Regions from separate parts of the Homo sapiens genome. Here region 2 is linked to region 1. Evidence: fine-mapped expression QTL. A gene starts in region 1. The other region holds a variant in brackets. All regions are shown on one strand. Distances are from middle to middle. Region 1 holds the start of LIN52 (lin-52 DREAM MuvB core complex component). Region 2 overlaps LIN52 (lin-52 DREAM MuvB core complex component).

Region 1 (12,234 bases):
GACATCATTTGCATATCATCTTTCTCAGGTACCATCAGTTTCTACCTTCTCTAGCCTCATCTCAGTGTCACTAAAGTTTGTACACAACCCCCCACTGCTAAATTTGACTAGCTTCAAAATAAATAAAACTTTACAAAATAAGTAACTCTTTAAAAATCTCTTTAAAAAGGAGCAGTACCAATCAAGCTGGTTGCAGAATTTCTGTGTTTCAAAAAAAAACCCCAGCCGGACATGGTGGCTCATGCCTGTAATCCCAGCACTTTGGGAGGCCAACACGGGTGAATCACAAGGTCAGGAGTTTGAGACCAGCCTGGCCAACGTGGTGAAACCCTGTCTCTACTAAAAATACAAAAAATTAGCTGGGTGTGGTAGCAGGCGCCTGTAATCCCAGCTACTCAGGAGGCTGAGGGAGGAGAATTGCTTAAACCCGGGAGGCAGAGGTTACAGTGAGCCAAGATTGCACCACTGTACTCCAGCCCAGGCAACAGAATGAGACGCCATCTCAAAAAAACAAACAAACAAACAAACAAAAAACACCAGGGCAGGTGGGGTGCCTCATGCCTATAATCCCAGCACTTTGGGAGGCCAAGATGGGTGGATCACTTGAGGTCCGGAGTTCAAGACCAGCCTGGCCAACATAGTGAAACCCTGTCTCTACTAAAAATACAAAAATTGGTCAGGCATGGGGGAACACACCTGTAATCCTAGTTACTGGGGAGGATGAGGCAGGAGAATCGTTTGAACCTGGGAGGTGGAGGTTGCAGTGAGCCAAGATCACACCACTGCACTCCAGCCTGGGCAACAAAGCAAGACTCCATCTCAAAAAAAAAAAAAAAAAAGAGTGCACTGTTATACATGCCCACTTGGGCTTTGGGAGTCACAGGCACCCACCCCTAGATGCTACCGTGGGGCTGGAGCCCAAAAGTGCTCGCCCTGACTCCTACACCTGCCCATCTGCGTGCTCCCTCTCCCATAAGAGGATTGAGTGCACACAGACAAGCCACACCCCTGTCGTATGTCCTGCGGTTAGGGAACTCCCCTATTTCAACATGAGGACTTTTATCTTCATCTGTATGCCAATGACTCCATATTTATATTTCCATTCCCAACCTTTCTAAAGAACTACAAAGGTTTATGTCCAAGTGGTTATTTGAATCCCTCTCTATTTACATATAAAAAAACTGCTTAAGGCCAGATGCAGTGGTGCACGCCTGTAATCCCAGCAGTTTTGGGAGGCCGAGGTGGGTGGATTGCTTGAGCTCACGAGTTTGAGACCAGCCTGGCCAACATAGTGAAAACCCATCTCTACAAAAAGCAAAAAAATTAGCCAGGTGTGGTGGTGTCAGCCTGTAGTCCCAGCTACTTGGGAGGCTGAGGTGGAAGGATGGCTTGAGCCCAGAGGTGGCAGCTGCAGTTAGCTAAGGTCACACCACTGCACTCCAGCCTGGGTGATAGAGCCACATCCTGTCTCAAAAAAAAAAAAAAAATCCCCACTTAAACTTTAAACCTAATTATCTTCAAAACCATATTCCCCCAATCTTCTCCCATCTCAAGAAATAACACTACCATAAATTCCAATTCTCAGATCAAAAACCCAGATGTCATCCTTCATGCATTCTTTTCCTTCACCCTTCCATAACCAATCCATGAGTAAATCTAGTCGTTTCTACCTTCAGAATACACCCTGAAATCAAATAACCCAAGGAACCATCACTTCTTTCTTGGACTACTTCAACAGCCTCTTAACAGATCTCTCTGCTCCCATTCTTACCCTTTCCCCTTCACACCCCCGGAATCTATTCTCCATAAAGAGGCCAGAATTGATTTTTTTAAACGTCAATCAGTTCGTGTCTCTCTCCAGCTTAAAGTTCCTCCCAGCTAAATCTGTGAATGTGTATCTACCACACTCTATAAAATCTTACTCAGCCTCTACCTAATTCTTTGACATCATTTCTCTTCCACTCTTCCCTTGCACACAGTAGTACTCAATATTAACATTTGTTGAGTTTTTATTGTATGCTCAGTATGCTAACCAGTTGCATAACTAGTTCATTTAATGCTATAAACAGCAGTTCTTAACATTTTCTGGGTAACCACATCTCTGGAAATCTGGGAAATAAAATGAACTCACTCCCCAGAAAATATACATACGTACAAAATGTACTTTTCTCTAAACTGAATTTGTTTTGCCAAATATTCCAAAGGAATTTCCAATGGCATTTTAATTGTAAAGAACTCAACTAATACATTGCCTTAATTAAAGCATCCAAAAATTAGCTTCTCTTTGTTACCGATTTCTGAGGAATGTTCAACCATAACAAAAGTAAAGTTATTGGGCCAGGTACAGTGGCTCATGTCTGGAATCCCAGTGCTTTGGGAAGCCGAGGCAGGAAGATTGCTTGAGCCCAGGAGTTTGAGACCATCCTGGGCAACATAGTGAGACTCCATCTCTACAAAAAATAATAAGGTGGGGGCATGGTGGCTCACGCCTGTAATCCTAGCACTTTGGGAGGCCGAGGTGAGTGCATCACCTGAGGTCAGGAGTTCAAGACTAGCCTGGGCAACATGGTGAAACCCCGTCTCTACTCAAAATACAAAAATTAGCCAGGTGTGGTGGCGTGTGCCTGTTATCCCAGCTACTGGAGAGGCTGATGCATGAGAATTACTTGAACCCAGGAGGCGGAGGTTGCAGTGACCCGAGATCATGCCACAGCACTCCAGCCTGGGTGACAGAGTGAGACTCCGTCTCAAAACAAAATAAATAATAATAATAATAAATTAGCTGGGCATGGTGGTGTGAGCCTATAGTACCAGCTACTTAGGAGGCTGAGATGGGAGAATCGCTTGAGCCTTTGAGGGTGCAGTGAGCTATAATCATATCACTGCATTTCAGCATGGGCAATAGAGTGAGAGAGACCCTGTCTCTAAAAGAAAGTTAAAAAAAAATTATTGGGGGTACAATCTAATAACCTACATGGGTGACCTTATGATACCACAGTCTGGGATAGAACTCAGACTCTGCTGTGAGTCTTACTCTCATAAATTAAGTAATTAGATGGCTGTATTTGAATTTCAGTTTTCTCCTTTTCAAAGACGCTCCAGCAAATTTATCACGAAAAAGACAAAAGAGTAAATGACAAACATATTAAAATAAATATTATCTGAATTAAATTTTAAAGACAGTGACAGGTGGAACACTAAAAATAGAAGTGAAAGAGCTAGGCCGTGGAATATTTTGGAATGAGATACTTATTTAGAAGCTGAATTTAAGTTCAAAGTGCTTGACTTGATTTTTTCAGATTAAAAAGAAAACATTAGGTGGAGAGGAGTGAAACTTTGTAAGAGATGAGAATGAAAACTTAAAAATCAAGAGTGCAAATAAAGTGACCATAGAGATGGCTAGAAAAGGAAAAAAATTTAATTTTTTTTTTTTTTTTTTTTTTTGCAATGGAGTCTCGCTCTGTCCCAGGCTGGAGTGCAGTGGCGTGATCTCGGCTCACTGCAAGCTCTGCCTCCCGGGTTCACGCCATTCTCCTGCCTCAGCCTCCTGAGTAGCTGGGACTACAGGCACCCACCACCACGCCTGGCTAATTTTTTGTATTTTTTAGTAGAGACAGGGTTTCACTGTGTTAGCCAGGATGGTCTCGATCTCCTGACCTCGTGATCCACCCATCTCGCCCTCCCAAAGTGCTGGGATTACAGGCGTGAGCCACCACGCCAAGCCAAATTTAATGTTTTTAATACTCTTCCTGGCCAAAGAAAGGAAACTAAATTGAGAGATGACAGGGGAAAAAAATCAAACTCAAGGAACACATCTCTAAAATCCCCAAAGTTTGTAAAAACAATTTAAAAATAAACTAAAAAGTTTAATAACAATTACTTCTACTTGTATTACTTGGCTTTTTTTTTCAACTGTGGTGAAATATACATAAATTTTACCATTTTAATAACTTTTAAGTATACATTTCAGTGGTATTAAGTACATTAATTGTGCAATCATCACATTCATTTCCAGAATTCTTTCACCTTCCCAAACTGAAATTTGGTACCCATTAACAATAACTCCCTATTCCCTTGCCTGACTTTTTAAATGCCCTTCTTTCTGGCAAGAGAAGGACATTTTTGCAAGAGCGCACCCAGGCAGGAGAATCTCTTTTGACTCCAAACATCCATAATTTCTTTTTTTTTCCTTCTTTTTTTTCTGAGACGGGGTCTCGCTTTGTCACACAGACTGGAGTGCAGTGGCATGAACATGGTTCACTGCCGCCTCCACCCCCTGGGCTCAAGAGATTCTCTTGCCTCAGCCCCCCCAAGTAGCTGGGACTACAGGTTTGTGGCATCACACCCAGATAATTTTTGTATTTTTTTGTAGAGATGGGGTTTCACCATGTTGTCTAGGCTGGTCTTCAATTCCTGAGCTCAGGCGATCTGCCTGCCTCAGCCTCCCAAAGTGCTGGGATTAGAAGTGTGAACCACCACGCCCAGCCATAATTTCTAATACAGTATGTACCTGCGCTCACAAAATTTAAGACTCGGTTAAACTTAAAACTTAAGATCAAGTAATATATTATTTCTGCATATATCTAATCAATCTTTCAATAAATGTTAATTAAAGACCTACTGTTCGTCAGGCACTGTGCTAAACCTGGATCCAACTATGAACAAGACAAACTTGGAATTTACAATCTAGCGCAAAAGGGGCAAAGTTAACAGAGTAACTATGCTGACAAGGAAGATACTGAGATAATGAATAATGGTGGGAAAGGGCAACTCCAGATACTGTGTTCTAAGAAAGACTCTTTGGGAGGTGACATCTAAAAAGAGAACTGAAACTGAAAAAAAAAAATGTTTATATGTTTGAGTCATCTTTTGGTCTCCCAAAGCACCTAGCATTATGCCTTTCATGTAGCAGGTACTTAATATAGCTCACCTTGGCTTCAATTTCTTCATTCCTGCAATGAACTTCCAAGATTCCTTCCAAATATAAAATGTTTTTGTCTAAGGGAAGGAAACCTATATATCAATAAAATCGATATATAGTTGGGATGAGGATGGTAGAACTAAAAATGAGTTTAAAAATGACTGCAAGACCCTAACTCTCTAAAGCAGAACCAAGAGGAAAAGCATGGGAGTATACCAAAACAACTTAATTGTTACTTGAAATGACTTGCATTTTACACAATATATAAACAGAAATCGTTAATTCACTCAGCCTTAAGAAACAACACGTAAAGCAGATGGAAGACAGGTTGCGACCTGTGCAAGACGACACTTAAAAGCTCAATACTGATTCTCCTCGCGACTCTCAGGGCGAGGGGCCGAGAACGTCCCCCGCTTCTCTTGCTGCCACGGCAATGGTCCCAAACTGAGGAGACAGGAGAGAGATCATGTTTCTCTTGCGGTTCAGTATCGAGATGAGGTCAGCCAGCAGCCCTGCGAGGGTTTGTGAGAATCATTCCATCCGTGCGCTCAATCAGAAGAGAACTGATCCTTTCAATGGGTACCCCAAGGAAAAAACTACAGTAAGCCACGTCCTCCAGAAACATCTCCTCCTCGACCCTCAGCCTCGCCCAAATAGAGATAAGGAAGGCACAGGGCGACCCCCCTGTCCTTTTACCCAGAATGAGTCCCTCCCTAGTGCCCTCCTCCACACGCCTGGTACAGAGCGGGGAAACTGGGCACCTCCGGAGCTGCTGTGAAGAACCGGTGAGCTGAAGACGGCGATGGATCTCAAGAAAAAAAATAAAAGGGAAAGGAGAAGAGCCCAAGAAAGAAATGTATGTTCGAGGGGCAGAGACAGAGTGGATGTTCCCAGTAGAGCAAAGAAGGAGGCTGCAGGCAAAGATCTCTAAGCCGGCTCTTACCGTCTGTGGGAGACGCCATCTTCCAACCCATGTCACGTGACGTGGCCAACCGTCGGCGGGAAAACGAGGTTCCATAAGCCACGCCCCCAAAGAGAAACCCTATCCCCAACTCGCAGCCCAGTCTCATTCCCTCGCCTCATAGGGCAATCTTTGCCTAGCCCCGCCCCTAAGTATAGCCACGCCCCTTACGCGGATGTTGAGGTGGAGCGACTGCAAAATTCTTGAAGGGTCTTATTTACTTTTTTCAGTGGGGGGGTGGGGCCTCGGTTCCGCCCTTGGCCAATCGGAGTTCCAGGTTAGGGGGGCGTCTTCCCCGTGTGCTCGGTAGGGAGTGTCCAAGTCAGGGGCGTCTTCTCTACCTCCGCCTACGTCATTGGCTGAGGTGGCAGAGGGCGAGAGCATTTTCGCTCCTAACCAATCACTTATCCCCAGGACGGGGGTGTGAGGAGAGGAATCAGGTGTTCGGACCAGTGATTGGCTGGAGAAAATAGTCCTCCCCACCAATGAGGAAGCCTGGCAGGATGGAGGGCGAGGCCTGGCAGCTGTAGTGCTTCTGGGCAGTAGAGGCGCGGGGTGCGGAGCTAGGGCGGCCGAGAGCCATGGCGGCGCTATTGGCGGCGGCGGCAGTGCGAGCCCGGATCCTGCAGGCGAGTGAGGGTGGTGCCAAGGCACCATGAAGCTAGGAATTGGATCCTTTCCGTCCGCTCCCTGAGCCATCCTCGGGCGGGACCACCTTCTTGGCCCAACCCCTTTTTGGCCAGACCTCCTACCCGACCTGTGCGGCCCTGTCCCATGCCCAGCCCTCACTTCATAACCTCCCTGGTCCCGGATCCAACCCTGGGCTGTTACCCTTGGCCCTCTACCCTTTTACTCCTAAGCCTCCTCTTTTCTGGCTCTCGCCCACTCTCCTTCTCCAGCTCTGCCCGCTCCCTGCTGTCACTCTCTTGCCCTCATCTCTCCATCCGCCCACCGTCTTTCCTTTTTACCTCTGCACCAGCCTTCTCTCTCTCCCCCAGAAACTACTCTTTTTGGTTACTCTGTCCCCTGCCGTGAGCGTCCACTTTGCCATTGCTCCCTTCCCCCACCCTACTTCACTATCCGTGGTGATCTGAGGTAAGGGGGAGGGGGGACGCGAGGGGCGAGGGTCAGTGTATGAACTTTGAATTTCCTTCTAGAGGTGGACTCTAGATTTTCACCAAAGGCAGCCATTTGCTAAGCTATTTTCCCTAAGTGTGGCTCTTTGTATTTTCCATGGACTGGCTGTCCCCTTTCTTGCCAAAACTTTGAGTTAAACTTTTTCTCAGCTAAGTTACAGTTTACATAGATAGGGCACATCTACATAGATAGGGTAGATAAGGGCACACAGTTAAAGCTACCAGTATGTTCCATGTATGTTCAAGGTACCAAACATCTTTAAAACGGGTGATAGAAAGTGGGAGCCAGGTAAGACAAGAAGTCTAAGTTCCCACCCCAAAATCAGCTCTTCTAGTGCTACACACCCTCATCTCTGCACTTGGGGGATTGAGTCCTCTCTGAAGCCAACCTAAGGAGAAATGGTAAAGCTACAGGAGTTGCATGCCTGAGGCCTGTAATCTCCAACTCTGTTTATAGTCTTTCCCCTGTTCATGGCCTACCAAGGATTTAGAGTATGTGGCAAGATTTACCGCAGGCAAGAAACAGTCTGCAAGAAACAACAGTGCCGTTCTTATTCATTACATCCAGTCTGAGAATTTCCTCTATATTGCTGAGCTTTTAGGTAATATTAGTATTCACCAGGTTTCCGTGAGTTCTAGTAAAGAAACTTGGGCAGTTTTAAGATTCTTGGCAGAGTCAGCAAAGATTCATTTTTAAATATGCTATTTAATGGGGAAGGTAGAAAGGATGAGTTTGAAGGGTTTGGCAGATGGTCTGGCCTCACTCATATTTCTTGCTGCGATCCTTGTTCTGTTCTAGTATCTTTTTTTAGTAGCAGGAAAACAAAGTTTCCACCCTATATTTTTCTTACCAACTTCTTGAAATCTTTTACTGAAATTGGCTTTTTTCCTTTGCCTCCTCTTCCCCTCCCATCACAATGAGTCATTGAGAACCTTAAGAAAGTATTTTGTCCTTTTCCATCAAGGAGAAGAATCTCTCTTTCCATGTACTTTTATTTCAGAAACAGACACTATGTATTTTCTGATTCATTTGGAGAAACTTCTGAAGTGACCTGGAAAAGAACAGATAGAGTAATCCTCAGCCAACTAGGAGTTGTAACGTGAATCTTTGATTAAAAGTTCGATAAAAAGTAGCCTACGGGCCAGGCGCTGTAGCTCCTGCCTGTAATCCCTGCACTTTGGGAGGCCAAGGTGGGTGGATCACCTGAGGTCAGGAGTTCGAGACCAGCCTGACCAACATGGTAAAACCCCTTCTCTACTAAAAATACAAAAATTAGCCGGGTGTGGTGGCGGGCGACTGTAATCCCAGCTACTCAGGAAGTTGAGGCAGGAGAATCGCTTGAACCCGGAAGACGGAGGTTGCAGTGAGCTGAGATCGTGCCATTGCACTCCAGCCTGGGCGACAGAGCAAGACTCCATCAAAAAAAAAAAAAAAAAAAAAAAAAACCTCGATTTTGGCAGCCATGAATATTAGAGAACTATCAAAAGGATTTATAGAGGAGAAAGTTAATGTTTTCAATTATTTTAAGTATTCAGCTTATTTTTCTCTGCCACGAAGAGTAGTCAAACTTAACCTAAAACCTCTCTCTGCTCCTTGTGATATTATCACTCCCATGCAGAGATAAAGGAATGTTCGAGACAGGGTCTCGCTCTGTCACCCAGGCTGGAGTGCAGTGGTGCAATCACAACTCACAGCAGCCTCGACCTCCCACGCTGAAGTGATTCTTCCATCTCAGCCCTCCGAGTAGCTGCAACAACAGATCGTGCCCCCATGCCAGCTAATTTTTGTATTTTTTGTAGAGACAGGGTTTCACCATGTTGCCCAGGCTGGTCTTGAACTCTTAAACTCAAGCTATCCTCCCACCTCAGCCTCCCAAAGTGTTGGGACTACAGGCACGAACCGCTGCACCTGGGCAAGAAAATTACTCTTGAAGAGATGTAGCGACTTGCACTGTCGGTGATATGGTTACCGAACTAGTAACTGATGGGGCTGAAAATTCAGAACTTAAGTCTTGCCATCTCTTTCTATGTTAGGCACTGACATAGGCTTACAGTAAAATGCTCACTGAAAGCTCCTTTATTGTACTGCAATAAGTGATAAACAATAGGAGTATCTGGGATACTGTGGGGACCTAGGGAAAGAGCCAAGTATTGCAGGACTAGCAGGCCATGAACCAGGAGAGGAAGGAGTTCCTTATAAAGGATATAGCAAGTAGGAAGTAAACATCTAGAGAGCAGCAGTTTGGGGTGACTGGCCACAGGATAGTTTCTTCAGCAACAATGCTAATGGGTGTTTCTTAGGAAATGAAGAAAAGATAGAAGATCGAACCTGTCAAAAAACTATATGAATATGTTCTATTATACCAGATGTAGTGCTTTTTACATCCTCTTAACAGCAGGGAGGCTGTATACAAGTGAAAAAATAAAATTTAAGTGGCCTAGAATGCTCAAGTTGGCTGATCAGTGCATTGTCTGCCAACTTGAGAGTACTGAAACAATATCAAATGATTGCTTGGCGAGTACTCATTCTTTCATTGTGCAAAATATTGCTTACTAAGTACTTACTCTCTTCCAGGAATTGTGCTAGGGGCTGGGGACACAACAATCTAGTGACCTCAAAGGAGAGAAAGTTAATCATTAGACAAGCTATTATTTCATAGCGTGAGATGAGAAATAAAGGAATTTGGGTGCTTTATGAGCTTCACAATCAGCTGCTTACCATAGACCTGAGGTTGAGACTTCCTAGAGAAAGTGATGATGGCTGAGTGGGGACCTAAAGGAGTAGGAATGAGCCAAGGAAATTAGATGAAACAGTGCCAGGCAAGAGAGAGCAGCATGTGCAAGAGCAAAGAAAGCAAGACACACGTTAAATTGCAGGAGCATAGAGAACAGGGAGGAAAGTAGCCAGTTATGTAACTAGAAAAGCAAAGATACTATGTAGCGTTTTCTAAGCAACATCAAGGGGATTAGTCTTTATTCCAAGGGCAGTGGAAAGCCAAAGAAGAATTTTAAACAAGGGAATAATCTGACCAGATTTATGTTTCAGAAAGACCCTCTGATTATGGGATGGAAACTAGATTCAGAAAGTTTAAGAGTAGGCTGGGTGTGATGGCTCATGCCTGTAATCCCAACACTTTGGGTGGCCCAGGCAGGAGGATCGCTTGAGGCTAAGAGTTCAAAACCAGCCCTGGCAAGATAGGGAGGCCCCATCTCTACAAAAAAAAATTTTTTTTAATTAGCTGGGCATGGTGGCATGTGCCTGTACTCCTAGGTACTTGGGAGACTGAGGCAAGAGGATCACTTGAGCCTGAGAGCGAGGTCGTGTGCACCTGTGGTCCCAGGTACTTGGGAGGCTAAGGCAGGAGGATCACCTAAGCCCTGGAGATTGAGGCTACAGTGAGCTGTGGTTGTGCCACTGCACTCTAGCCTGGGTGACAGAGTGAGACTCTGTCTCAAAAAAAAAAAAAAAAAGAAAGAGTTTAACATTAGAGGCTGAGAGATGTGTTAGGAAGCTATTATGGAAGGTCAAGTGAGAGACAATGATGGTATAGACTGGGATAATGGCAGGACAGCTAGAGGTGAGTGATGTGTTTCAAACAATTCTAGGACAGACTGCCAGGAGTTTTTTGCTTCCCTGCAGAGAGAGAGGGAGGAATTGGAATAGTATCTGGGTTTCTCCTTTGGCAACTTGTTAAGGAGTAGCCCTATTTACCGAGAGGTGGGCTATAGGAGGCATAGCAAACTGGCAAAAGGAAGATGCAGAGTTTAGCTTTTGCTTTTGTTTTTTGGTTTTTGTTTTTTTAAGATAGGGTCTCGCTCTGTCACCCAGGCTGGAGTGCAGTGGCACAATCGCAGCTCACTGTAGCCTCAATCTCCAAGGCTTAGGTGATCCTCCTGCCTTAGCCTCCCAAGTACCTGGGACCACAGGTGCACATGACCATGCCCAACTAATTTTTAAAATTATCCGTAGAGGTCACATGTCGTGGCTCACACCTGTCATCCCAGAACTTTGGGAGGCCAAGGTGGGCAGATCATTTGAGGCCAGGAGTTCAAGACCAGCCTGGCCAACATGACAAAACCGCATCTCCACTAAAAATACAAAAAATTAGGCCAGGCGCAGTGGCTCACGCCTGTAATCCCAGCACTTTGGGAGGCTGAGGCGGGCGGATCATGAGGTCAGGAGATCGAGACCATCCTGGCTAACATGGTGAAACCCCATCTCTACTAAAAATACAAAAAACTAGCCAGGCATGGTGGCGGGCGCCTGTAGTCCCAGTTACTCAAGAGGCTGAGGCAGGAGAAGGTGTGAACCCAGGAGGCGGAGCTTGCGGTGAGCCAAGATCGCGCAACTGCACTCCAGCCTGGGCGACAGAGTGAGACTCTGTCTCAAAAAAAGAAAAAAAAAAAAAACAATAAGAAAAAAAAATTAGCCGGGTGTGGTGGCATATGCCTGTAATCCCAGCTACTCAGGAGGCTGAGGCAGGAGAATCGCCTGAACCCGGGAGGTGGAGGTTGCAGTGAGCCGAGATTGCGCCATTGTACTCCATTGAGTGCAGGCAGGTCTCAAATTCCTGAACGCAAGTGATCTTCCCACCTCAGCCTCCCAAAGTGCTGGGATTACAGGCGTGAGCTACTGTGCCCAGCCACCTTTTTTTAACATGTGCCCAAGTAACATCCAAATAGAGATGTGGTAAAGATAATTACGTGGGTATCACCTGAAGAGGAAAATACTGGCCAAGGACTAAAGAGTTGGGCATCATCAGGATCTAGATAGTTAAGCCATGAGAGTTGATAAAATCACCCAAGGAGCATATACAGAATGAGAAGAAAAGAAGGCCTAGGACCAAGCCTTGGGAAACTTAAAGAGTTAATGGCAGCCTGGTGGGGTGGCTCACCCCTGTAATCCCAGCACTTTGGGAGGCCAAGATGGTCAGATCACCTGAGGTCAGGAGTTCGAGACCAACCTGGCCAACAAGGTGAAACACTGTCTCTACTAAAAATACAAAAATGTGGCCAGGTGCAGTGGCTCACACCTGTAATCCCAGCACTTTGGGAGGCTGAGGCAGGCAGATCACTTGAGGTCAGGAGTTTGAGACCAGCCTGGCCAACATGTTGAAACCCCATCTCTACTAAAAATACAAAAAATTAGCTGGATGTGGTGGCACATGCCTGTAATCCCAGCTACTCAGAAAGCTGAGGCAGGAGAATCACTTGAA
Region 2 (12,234 bases), 120 kb before region 1:
GAGTACTTACTGTGCCCAAGGGGCTTTACCGAGTCTAATTTAATCTTTACAACACAGCTGTGAGATATGTTCTGCTGTTATGCTCATTTCAGACGAGGAAACCAAGACTTGGTGAAGTGAAGTGATTTGGTCAAGGAAAAAAATCATTGAGCTGTTCACTTAAGATTTGTAGATTTAATATAAATGAGTTACGCTCTGATAAATCTTTATTGAATGGGAAACCCTTGAAAATACGGACATTTTTTGCTTTCTCTGCTCTTGAATTTCCTATTCCCCAATAATTTAGTGCAAAATGTTAAAGATGTATTTTGGCTTGTTTCATTTTAGGAAAATAGCAGGTCGGGTCAAAATGGCGCTTTTAGCCTTAATGGCTTGGGTGCAAATAGGCATAGCTTGTGACTGTGAAATCAGAGGTCCTGGGTTGCAGAGGGGTCCTGGAGCTGACACAGGCCAATGGGCCAGTACAACCTGCTTGGTTCCCCAGCTGCATGAACTGTTGGCCCCATGGTCAGTCCTGACCAGAAATGCACAAGGGTATTTGTCCCCTGGGTCCTCAAGGTCAGCTCCTCTGTCTCCCTCCAACACACCCCAAACCTTATCATATCCCTCAACCTCCTGACCCTGCCACCCATCTCTGCTTTTCAGGTTTGCAGGCCCCCACCCAGAGGCACCTTCATCATTCCTCCCTGACGTGTCGACTTTCATTTTCCTAGGACGAGTCTCATTTGACAGTCTCCTGCCCATATTTCTAAGCTCTCTGGGTCTCGTTGTGCTATTTCTCTGTCCTCTCTGGGGTTTGTAACACCAATCATCTGCAGGTTTCATTAGCATGCTGTTTACCCCTGTCTTTCAGATCATTAATGAAGATGTGAAGTGAGACACCAATCCTCACAGCCCCCACCACGTGCTCCCTCCCATGCCTGGCGCTGCTGGAGTCATTATCCTTCCTGGTGTGACAGGGTCAGAACCAAACCAATTTGCATCAGTCTTTGGTGATGTTGTGAAGCGTCGCCTGCCCTGCAATCCTGCTGCTGTAACAACTGCTTCAGCTGTCTGTTCTGGAGTGCTCTTCGCTCCTTTGGAAGACTGATCAGATCTGGCCACCCCAGTTCTGGCTGAAAGCCCTAGAGCGACCGCAATGGTAGGGCAGGATTCAGGGCTACACATGGCTGACATTGTTCCTTCTTCGTTTTGCTCTTCTGAGCTGGACAGAAAGCAGTCCCTCTTTGGAAAACAGGATGGACAAGTGCATACATTAGTGGAGGACGCAGCAGATGTGGCAGGCATAGAATTTTACTCATTGCTCCATCTATTTCTATCAAGGAAAATGGGGAGTGCTCCCAATTTCCGCCCATTTTCTAGCCCAGGCCTAGTCAGATGTGTGGGCTTGTATATTCTGGGAACCTGGGGCTGATGTGGTCAAGTCACTTCTTGGGGACAAGGTCAATTCTTCTCCATTTTCTCATGTCATTTGGTCCTGAGGGTTTTATATCTTCTTTAGCAATTCCATGACTATGCTTCTCATCCTGCAGGGAAACTGACTTTATATACACACTTGTCTCCCAATAAAAGTGAGAACCACCTCCTACATATCCCTTGTGTCTTCCAGACTCCAACTCAGATGAAATGCACTTCCTTCTCTTTCCTGATTGTGCAGCGCCTCCAACTGGTTGTTTGTGATGAAAACATGAGTATAATTACAGACTCTTCTCTGACCCATTTCTACTCCTGACCCCCAACTCATCTTTTCTTCCTTCTCTCCAATTGGGAAGGGGAAGGGAAGCAAGGAGAAAGTAGCGAAGGAAACTCTCGCAAACACATCTGAAGTAAGATGCTGCATGTCCAAGAGCTGGGGGAAACTTAACGCTACGACTCTACAGCAAAGTTAGGTGAGACATATTTTCTCAGGGTAGGTAAGGAAAGACTGAGGAAAAAGATAGCTATTTGGCAACACTGAACACCTACTGACTGAATGATTTTTTTCTGCTCCTGGGCAAAGGCTCTGAGGAGTGTGGGGAGAGATGGGACTGTCATGAATAGGGAACAAGTTTTTTTTTTCCACATTACATGCAATGAGGTAGAGATCCTAGGGTATAGCTGGATGCTTATTAGGTGCTCAGTAAACACTTATTGGTGTACAGATTGATATACATTTGCATACTAAAGAACAAATTTCATTACCATATACAAAGGTTATCGATGAACTATGTATGTATGCACATGTGTGCAGGATAACAGGCTGAGCTGAGAAGCAGGGCTTTTAAAATCTGTATATCCGGCCCCAGAGGCTTTTTTCTCCCTGTATTATAAAATCAATACCTGTTTCCGTAGAGAGTTTGGAAAATGTAGAAGAAAACAACAATACCCCATATTCCTCCAACCAGGCAGCAAGCACTATTACCACCTTCGCCTATTGCCTTCCATTCACCACCCCACTGTAATTGTTATATCTGGCCATTTCACTTATCCTTATGACAAAACCATTTCTTCCATGATATCATAACCTCTTTGCAAACACACCAAATGGCTGCATGGCAGTTCGCTACGGGAATGTACCATGATTTACTCAACAGCTGCACATCTGAACAGCCTTTGGGCCACTTGAAGGCAGAGGCAGCAGCAGCAGAGGTGGATGGCGGGAAGTAGGAGGCCAAGGTGAAGCAGCTCGCAGGACCTTGCTTCCCCATGAGCCCCCCGACCACCATTCCTCAGAGATCATTTCTGGTTCCAATCCTCACATATCCTTCATGGGTCCTGCCACAGCCAGCACTTCTCATTTCTACTCAGCCTCAAGTCACTGACTTTCCCAACTTGACTCTTCTCAGCTGCTCCTTTGTGTGAAGTCACTGGCTCAGGCCAGCTTGGCTCCTGGGGCTTGGCTGCGTCCAGAAAGGCCCTGGGATGTGACCTTCAGCCTCGCTTGACCCTGAGGCCTCAGGCTGCAGTCAGGCGAGGGTCTCTCCATGGGCTCCCAGAGAAGGCAAAGCCCAGAGGAGGCTGCTGCGGGAGCAGAAGCCTGAGTGGACCCTGCTTAGTCCTGGAAAGGGACCTGACAGGTTTGCGAGAACCTGACAAATCTCACACCATAGAAAACTATCTGGCCCAGGCACAGTGGCTCATCCCAATACTTTGGGAGGCGGAGGTGGGCGGATCACTTGAGCCCAGGAGTTCGAGACCAGCCTGGGCAACATGGCGAAACCCCATCTCTGCAAAAAATACAAAAATTAGCCAGATGTGGTGGCACGTGCTTGTGGTCCCAACTACTTTGGAGGCTGAGGCAGGAGGACTGCTTGAGCCCAGAAGGCAGAGGTTGCAGCGAGCTGAGATCGTGCCACTGCACTCTAGCCTTGGTGACAGAGGGAGACCCTGTCTCACCAAAAAAAGGAAGGAAGGAAGGGAGGGAGGGAGGGAGGCAGGGAGGGGGGAGGGGGAGGAGTGGGGGAAGGAGGGAAGGGAAGGGAAGGGAAAGGAAAAAGAAAACTATCTGGAGGAATGTGGAGGACTGGTGGGTTAGGGGTAGGAGGTTATGACTGAATCAAACAGGGAAGTGTGTTCCTGTGCAGTGATTGGAAAAGCATGGATGCTCAGAAAATACTAGGACTACAAAGATTAGCAAAGTACAGTGATTTGAGGCTTATGTATGCCAAGTTCAGTATCAGTTCAGAAACTTGCCAATGTCACAAAGTATACCTTTCCCTCCCTTGCTTAATGCCACTGTCTGTAGAGTCAACAATGGTTTCTACTGAGTGTCCATGCTGGCACAGGGCCTCAGTGGGTGGAAGGATGGGGGTAGGAGAAATAGTAAACTGTCAGCTCTTCTGAAGGGTTACAGAAATGGTATTCTGCTTAACTGACTAGTCAAGGTAACCAGAAGTTACTATATTTTCCCTATAGGGATTGCCAATGTTTTTTTTGTTTGTCGTTTGTTTTTGTGTGAGACAGTCTCACTCTGTCACCCAGTGTGGAGTGCAGTGGTGCAATCTCAGATCACTGCAACTTCTGCCTCCCAGGTTCAAGCAATTCCCTTCCCTCAGCCTCCTGAGTAGCTGGGAGTACAGGCACCTGCCACCCTGCACAGCTAAATTTTTTTGTATTTTTTCATTTTTTTTTTATAGTAGAGACGGGGTTTTGCCATGTTGGCCAGGCTGGTCTTGAACTCCTGACTTCAAGTGATCCACCCGCCTCAGCCTCCCAAAGTGCTGGGATTACAGGTGTGAGCCACCATGTCCGGCCTAGGGATTGTCAATTTTTAACAAATGTGAGTATAATAAAAAATTAAATACTACATGGAATCTGTTTTATAGATCTATCCATCAAGCAATTATATACGTAATGGGTAAGATATGCCATGCACCATTCTCAACACTTTGCAATACTCGTTTAATCTCTACAGCTACCCTAGTAGTTAGGTGCTATTTGCACCCAGGCAGCCTGACTTCAGAGCCTGTGCCCTTATCCATGATGCTGATATGACTCTTTAAAGTGGAAAAAGTCCTAAGGAAACCAAGGCTTAGAGAGAAGTAACTTACACAAGATCACCCCTGCCTCTCTCTCAAAATCCAAGCACTTACTATATCTTAGACCAGCAATGAGGCTATGAACACCGAATGTCAAGGCACAGTTCATTCTTTCAACAAATGCTTATTTTAGCACCTATTATGTGCCAGGTAGTTCTGTTTATAACCAAAGAAACTGTAGGAAATTGAACAAATTTGGATCAATTCTTTGGCATGTCCCAAAAGTTATTTTTAAAAGTCAAATCTTATCATTATCCTCTCTGTGCCTCAGAAAACTGAAGGTAGAAAAACAATGCAACTCTGATTACTTGAGTTTTTTGGCTCCTCAGATTCTACATAACTGAATCTCCTTTGGTATTGGAGGTCACTTTCAGAAACATCAGGTATAGAGATCGAGACAGAAAGCAGAGGGCAAGAGAGAGATGAAAATATGTGAGCCCAATTCTGCTCCGAACTTGGGTTTAATTGAGATTCCAACTGCCACTCTCCCCTGCATTCCTTTGTCCCTGGCTATGACCAAGTTTACGGCTGTATCGCCCCAAGTAATCCCCGTAATGGGCTGCAATCCTGGGGGAGCTGTTTTTGTTCATTAAGTGACCAACCTCTGAGCCACATGGAGCGCGGCCAGTTACAGCTTCTTGCCCTGGCAGATGGGCCACTTTTCTGTTTTAAAAAAACAGGGATCTTTCAGGAGAGAGGAGATAGTAGGCAGGGGTTGGGGACACAATCAGGGACATAAAGGTGATGGGTGCTAGAAATGAAGGCCAGAGTGAGGGGGGCAGTGGGTGCCCCTTCCAGGTCATGCAGTCTTCTAGGGCAGAATTCACTCACGTGCTGTGTGTTAGCTTTCTTTGCAATGGTAACTATAGTTGTGTAGGGCTTACAGTTTGTGAAGGGCTCAATGTAGTTCCTGGAGTGATGCTACCAGTCTGCAGAGGTGGGAGGAGTGAGGGGGCCATAGACAGGAGGCAGCGAATGAACAGAGTAGGGCAAATAGCTGAGAGGGGGCTTCCCCTGAGGGTCAGAAATTCTCAGTGCTTCAGACTCCAGCTCAAGTGACAGGGGCCAGGCTGTGCCAAGAGCAGTTCTCTCAAGCCAACTGACTCTTACCTCTCTGCCCACAGCCCCAGTGTCTGCTTCTTGAAGTTGGGGAAACATTGCAGCAGCTGCTTGTTGGGAGACCCGTCCCCTCACTGCACTGCCCCACCCCCTCCCCGCCACCTGCCCCACCACCCCATGTCTGTCCTCTGGGTAGAGTTGTGTGAAGCGGAAGACAATTTGGGGCTTATTAGTGTCCCAGGGAGACATGTAACTTGTGTTGCTGGGACCCAAACAGCAAGAGTCTTAGCGGCAAACTCCAGCCGAGAAAAGACTGAGGAATTGTCTCACCTAATTACAGGGAATGGCCCTCTTTGTGTTTGTGATTCGGTACGGTTGTCCGATCGCTTTTGATCGCTTTTCTCTATTTGCTGGCTCAGGCCATGCTGGAATTGTGCTAATTAGAAGAGAAATGGACAGAGTGATCCTGTCAGCCCTGGTTACTGGTGGGGACAAAGCAGAATATTATTCTGAGGCAGTGTTTTGTGAGGGCCCTTCTTCCAGCTCTCATTAGGAGGAAGGGGCCCACAGGAGGGGAAGGTTCCAAATGCCTGGCCCAGCTAATGGAGCACTGGGGTGTTTCTGTGCTAATTAACAGGCTTTGCCAGCACTCACGCCAACCAGGAGCCTCACAGTTACACCTGGTATCGTCTGAAGCCCCCAGCTGCTCGAGAGGAAAAAGCGCCAGGCAAAGGGTGGGAAGGCCAGTGGCCTCTTTAGGCATAGACAAGGACACACACCCCAAATGCCAAAAAGCCTACATAGATAGGAAAAATCAGTTCCAGTCCATCAGAACTTACAACCGTGGAGACACCACCCTTTGCCACTCTCTGGGGTTGGGGGTTGCAAGACTCTCTGGTGAAACAAAGCCCACATAGGGACCAGGTATCCTTGTAGCTCTCACGAGATGAAGAAAACAGAAAATGGAGAACATAACCAAATTCTTGGAGACGGAGTTAGTGCAGAAGCTGAGAACTGGTAAGAGACTGTGTTATTTGG[C/T]TTCTGCGACCATCCACCTTGGCCCAACTGTCCATTTCCTCACTTCCTGCTCTGCCTGTTCACCTTCTTGTGATGTCTTAATCCTGGAGGAAACAGGAGGGGTCAGGGAATCCCACTGGAAATGAAATTTCTCGGCTTCATTTCAAAGCTCCTGTGGAAGTCCAAACACACTTCTGAAGCCACAGGGACAAGGGAATGACTTTCATCAGTTCCATTTTCACTGCCTTGATCTGGGAGCATCCAGAAGAGCAGCTAGAGAACTAAAACCACGGAGCAGTTAGCAAGCATCCATTTAAAAAATATGACAAAAATGGAAAGATAAAAATGAATGATGGCATTTCAATATCAACACAATTAATACCCTGTGAACTTTAAGTGTTCTAACCTATGGAAGGCAGGCCAAGCAAATCAGCAGAGGCCTAGAATCTGTGAGACTGAAGACAGCAAGAAATAATGAGAGTGCTGGTAAGAAAAAAATGTCAATAAGAATTTGCAAATGTGTCTCCAAGCTCCAATACTATGCTTTTCAGAATGTTGCTGCTCACAGCTGACAGATGCTTTACAGGATGGTATTTGGAATGGCAAAGGAAAAGGGAAAAAATATCTGTAGGCAAATAATAAACAATTACTTACCGTAAAAATAGTCTCTAAAGACTTAGAACACTCCTAACACTGTCCCTACTTAGTCAATCAGCCATGCTTTTCTAGATCACAGAAATCTACTGTTCATCCAGATGTCTTTTTTGGAAATAAATGATGGGCCTATGATGAGAAGCAATTTGCTTTCCTTAAAATGAAATGCTTTCTTTAAAAGGGCATATTCTGGTCCAGAGCAGGTAAACTATCAATGAGTGATAGCAGTAGCAATAATGAGTACTTCCTCTTTTCTAGTTCTTGAACATGGTTGAAAAGGAACCCACACTAAGGGATTTAGAAGATGGCAGATAAATACTTGTTTTCAATCTATCATGTGTAACCAGAAGCCTGCAAGCAAACAGGTTTTGAACCCCTAGTTCAAAGACACTGAAGAACTAGATGTGCAGGAGACAGCTATACCTTGAGAAGCTTTGAATTTAGTAGGGCAATAAGATATGTACTCAGTGTCAGGCGTAGTGGCTCACACCTGTAATCCCAGCACTTTGGGAGGCCGAGGCGGGAGGATCACTTGAGGCCAGGAGTTCGAGACCAGCCTGGCCAACTTGGCAAAAACCCGTCTCTACTAAAAATACAAAAATTAGCTGGGCGTGGTGGCATGCACCTGTAATCCCAGCTACTAGGGTGGCTGAGGCAGAGAATCGCTTGAACCCGGGAGGCAGAGGTTGCAGTGAGCCAAAATTGCACCACTGCACTCCAGCCTGGGCAACAGAGTGAGACTCTGTCTCAAAAAGAAAAAGTACTCAGACCACTTAAATATAAGGCAGACTATGGTAAGAGTCACAGGGATGATATGGGTAAATGCTATAGGAATGTAGGGGAAGGACCATTTCCAGCTGGATCATCAGGAGATTATAGGAAGCATAGGTTTGCCAGATGCAAAAGGGATCCAAGACCTTCTAGGAACTCAAAGGCAGGAGCAAAGGCACTCAAGTGAGAAACTGGGAACTGTTCAGAGTAACTGCAACAGAGACTTCATATATAGGAGAGGAAGAAAACGAAACGGAAGGGTTGCTTAGGATTACATGTAGAGAGTCTTAAAATGCCGGGTCAAGAGATTGAGACTTTATTAGTAGACACGGGAAGGTATTAAGGGTTTCTAAATACTACTTTCGGGTGTTGGGCAGTGGTAGGATAGAATGGAAGGCAGGAGACCAAGTAGATGACTGTAAAGCCCCCAACTATCCATTAAGTATATTAAGGGGGAAAACAGTAGATTATTTATCATTACAGTTGTACTTTCTGGGGAGGTCTGTGCTTTAAATATCCAACTCGGCCCTCTGAGGAAAAACTCACCCTCCTGTAAAAGGGACATATTTATTATGAAGACACAAAAACCATCACATACAAAGTACAATACTATAACATCCTGAAATACATATACACACATACTGTACATAAATTTATATTATCAATATAAAAATACATCATTAACATTTCTAAGGATGACAAATACTAAACCAATAAATATTGCAATTCTAAAACATCTACTTACATTAAGTGCTGGTGAATAGGATGACGGTAAAAGAAAGAGGACAAAGCGGACCAGAAAACCAACCACCTGGCTTCCAGTTACAGACTTGAGTTGGTTTGGGGGAGGTATCCCAATCAATTTCCCCAAACACTGAAAAGTGCCTGATGTCATCAACTCTCAAAAACAGAGCAAAGGAAGAATTTGACATTATGGCACTATTTTTTGGCCACATGCGCGCGCGCACACACACACACACACTCTTCAACCGCATTTAGTGAGATACAGAAATATCAATCGATAATAAGTTTAAATTAAAATCAAAGCCCCTACAACCTAACCTTCTATGTAGCACCCCAGCAGAATGTTTTACTTCTCATACTCATCTTTCCTATCTTGTGTTAAGTCTTTTTTCCTTTCAATAAGTAAAACTACATTGATGGTCAAATGAGAGAAAAATCCAGCATTAATTCTAGCATGAGAACAAGGCACAAATGTCAGAAAAGGTTTAATGGATCAGCTGTTAAACTGAAGAGTGCCATGCCCTAGCAAACACTCACGACTCAAAACCATAACTTTTCTTGTGTCCAAACACCATCAGACTATTGCCACAGGGATATTCTTTTTTTTTTTTTTTTTTTTTTTTTTTTTCTGAGACAGAGTCTCACTCTGTTGCCCAGGCTGGAGTGCAGTGGCATAATTTCGGCTCACTGCAACCTCCACCTCCCGAATTCAAGCGATTCTCGTGCCTCAGGCCCCCAAGTAGCTGGGACTATAGGCATGCACCATCATGCCCAGCTAATTTTTGTATTTTAGTAGAGACAGGGTTTCACCATATTGGCCAGGATGGTCTCGATCTTTTGACCTATGATCCACCTGCCTCGGCCTCCCAAAGTGCTGGGATTACAGGCGTGAGCCACCATGCCCGGCCCCAGGATATTCTTTTGTGCAAAGTTTAGGAAACTCCATGCACTTCTCAAAACATCAGATGCTGGGGACTGGCTTATACAAGAAATATGGAGAACACATATAATAGATTTTAGCCATGGGCTAGATTTTCAGATTTTAACAGAGACAGATAAGTGGTGAAGAACTCCATGAAAGTTGTATTTAAGTCAGAAGATTCTTTTTCGTGTGTGTGCGTTTCTATTATATAGATGAACTATTTCATATGTGCTGTCAGAGGGGACAATCCCACCATCCCATAGCATGTTACTTTAAGGTCAATTAGGGCTTCTAGCTTTCAACCAAATGGGAACTCCTATAAACCATCCCGTTTCTCTTGTCTTTCAGGCTATACTGACTTTCTTGCTTGAAGCTGTAACAGATTAATTAGAACTCAAAAGTCCTTTCTGTCACCTTCACATTGGTCTTTAGACAACCTTGGATGGGCCTTTCACTATACAAGCTAATTCCAGGAGGGACTCAGGGATCCCTCTGCCCGAAGTCAGAACTAGAAGGTGGGGCTGGGAAGTAAGGAATGAAAAGCAAATGGGACTATCATAAGAGGTATAGAAGTTTTAAAAAACAGATATACATTTCGAGAAGATTCTGGTTTCTTCAGCTGGGGATTCTGGGAACTTAGTATATACTGGAGAGTTCACAGGTCAGGCTGCATGGTCTGGTCCAGAATCTACTTGGTCTCTGGTCTCCTCACATCGTAAACACTTTCTAAGAGATCAAGAACAATTCAAAAGAACCCATCCAATCAACATGTCACAACTGACTGCCATGACTGAGTCAAATCAACCGTAAGATCCTGGGGCTCCTGAATCACTTCCAGAAATGAGAAAGCAGGACTTCGACCTTTAAGAATGATATGCCCTCAGCTGTTACCAATATCCGAGGCTAAGAAGGTTCAAGTCTGAAAGTTGATTGAGTAACTGCAATGATCCTTGGGTAGAGCAGATTCTTCTCTTGCTGCTGAATGTCCTCAGACGTGTAGAGTGCCAGGAGCAGGGGAGAGGGCAGTCCTGGAGGTACACCCTCTGGCCTCTCCCAAGCAAGCAGTGAGGTGTGCATTGTTAGAGGTGCACCGGGAAGGGAGCTTGGTTTCGGACCCCAGGACATCCTGTCCGCAAGCAGCTGCTACTTCTTGGGCTTCTCTAGAATATTGAGGAATTTCCCCCGTGTCATCTCTCTGGCTGGAATCACAAAGCAAACAAATGATCAATGAAAACCTAAAATCGGAAAAAAGAATCATAGGAAGATTTAATTTAAAAATGCAGATTGATTTAAATTATATATCAAGTTGCTATCACAACAGATTCAATCATCACCAACTAACCTAAAAGGGGGTAAAAACAAACCACTATAGACAACTAAAACTGTACAAAGCTATTCTGAAGTTGGCAATTGAGATACATGCCAAATGACTGGGAAAGATTTTATCATCCACCTTTAAACAAATCACCAGGGGATTCCCCCAAAACCTATCTCTGTCTCTAGAATCTAACCTAATACTCATGTTCACTATCTCAGGGGGTTTGCTCTTGAAGCCTAAAATCCAACCAAGATTAGTCTTCTCTGGGTTGCTGGTCTCTGGACATTTATAATCTCAAATCAAAATTAGAGATCATTTACCCTATCTCTCAGCAGTGTTAGTCCCTGGATACTGTAATATAACAGGGTTTATATTCCCTCAGTGCAGTTCATCTGTGGATGGTGTCATAAAGTAGGGTTTATAGAGCTTTGGTCTTCTCTCCCTTGGCATTGTCAGTCCTTAGCTATTTAATATAGCCAGCCAAGGTTTATGTGTCTTTCTCCGGCTTTCAGCACCATCAATCTTTGAATGCTATAGTTACAAGTGGGTTTATACAGCTACTTTCCTACATATAAGGCTCCAAAATGAAAGTAAAACATTTCTCAATTACAAGGGCTACTCCAGAGGTCTCCCATTTTAGATCTCAGAAAGCATACGTAGTGTAACAGCCCCTTCCTCATCCTCATCCTCATCCTGCAAGGCCATGTTTTCAGATTTCTTAAATGGATTTAACAGTGCAGAAAGTTTCTGATCGCTGATGGCTGGCTCTGGAAGCCAGGCCTTCTGGAACCATGCAGTAGGCACGGGGTAGGCTGTGTGGTCTCCCAAGAACACATCTCCGTCCTGGCCAAAGAAGTGAGGTGGCTAGGGAGGCACTCTCAGGAATGAGAAGGACCTTCACCCTGGCCTCCTTGTTGCCTTTCCCAAGTCCAGAGCAAATGGAGCTAGATGAATGGCCTCCAGCTCCCCTCTGCCCCAATTTAAGTTTAACAGTTTCTTGTTTTCTTGTACAATGAAGAAATAAAAACTACACAACCTCTGGGACCACAGGGAGGCTTTTGTAACTTCAGTCTATACATTCCCCATCTTTCACTAGTTCCTGTGCCCCAACAAAGGGAAAGGAAATTCCATTAACTAGGCATAGAAGCCCAGTGTTGGGTCTTGCCTCATGTGCTCACAACCCCAACCCAGACCAAATCAAACAGACCATTCCTTCCTTCATGGATTTACAG

The links. PIP is the estimated chance that this variant, and not a neighbour inherited with it, causes the effect.
Region 2: its variant is fine-mapped to the expression of LIN52 in whole blood (INTERVAL, PIP above 0.99).

Annotation. Positions count from the first base shown.
Region 1 is chr14:74,078,624-74,090,857 of GRCh38, reverse strand. LIN52 (lin-52 DREAM MuvB core complex component) reads right to left here and starts at 5,902. Exons shown (of 6, transcript NM_001024674.3): 1 at 5,865-5,902. The coding sequence starts at 5,883. It overlaps ALDH6A1 (aldehyde dehydrogenase 6 family member A1), which reads left to right and starts at 6,405. Exons shown (of 12, transcript NM_005589.4): 1 at 6,405-6,511. The coding sequence starts at 6,464. It also overlaps a transcript of BBOF1 not described here. RefSeq lists enhancers at 4,784-4,873, 5,814-5,993.
Region 2 is chr14:74,197,571-74,209,804 of GRCh38, reverse strand. LIN52 (lin-52 DREAM MuvB core complex component) reads right to left here. Exons shown (of 6, transcript NM_001024674.3): 6 at 8,312-10,883. The coding sequence ends at 10,828. LOC105370564 (a long non-coding RNA gene) reads left to right here. Exons shown (of 3, transcript XR_944025.3): 3 at 854-944. Among named protein-coding and RNA genes, the nearest start is that of VSX2, 36 kb to the left of the region's middle. RefSeq lists a silencer at 7,432-7,632. The variant C/T (reference allele first, on the strand shown) is at 6,615.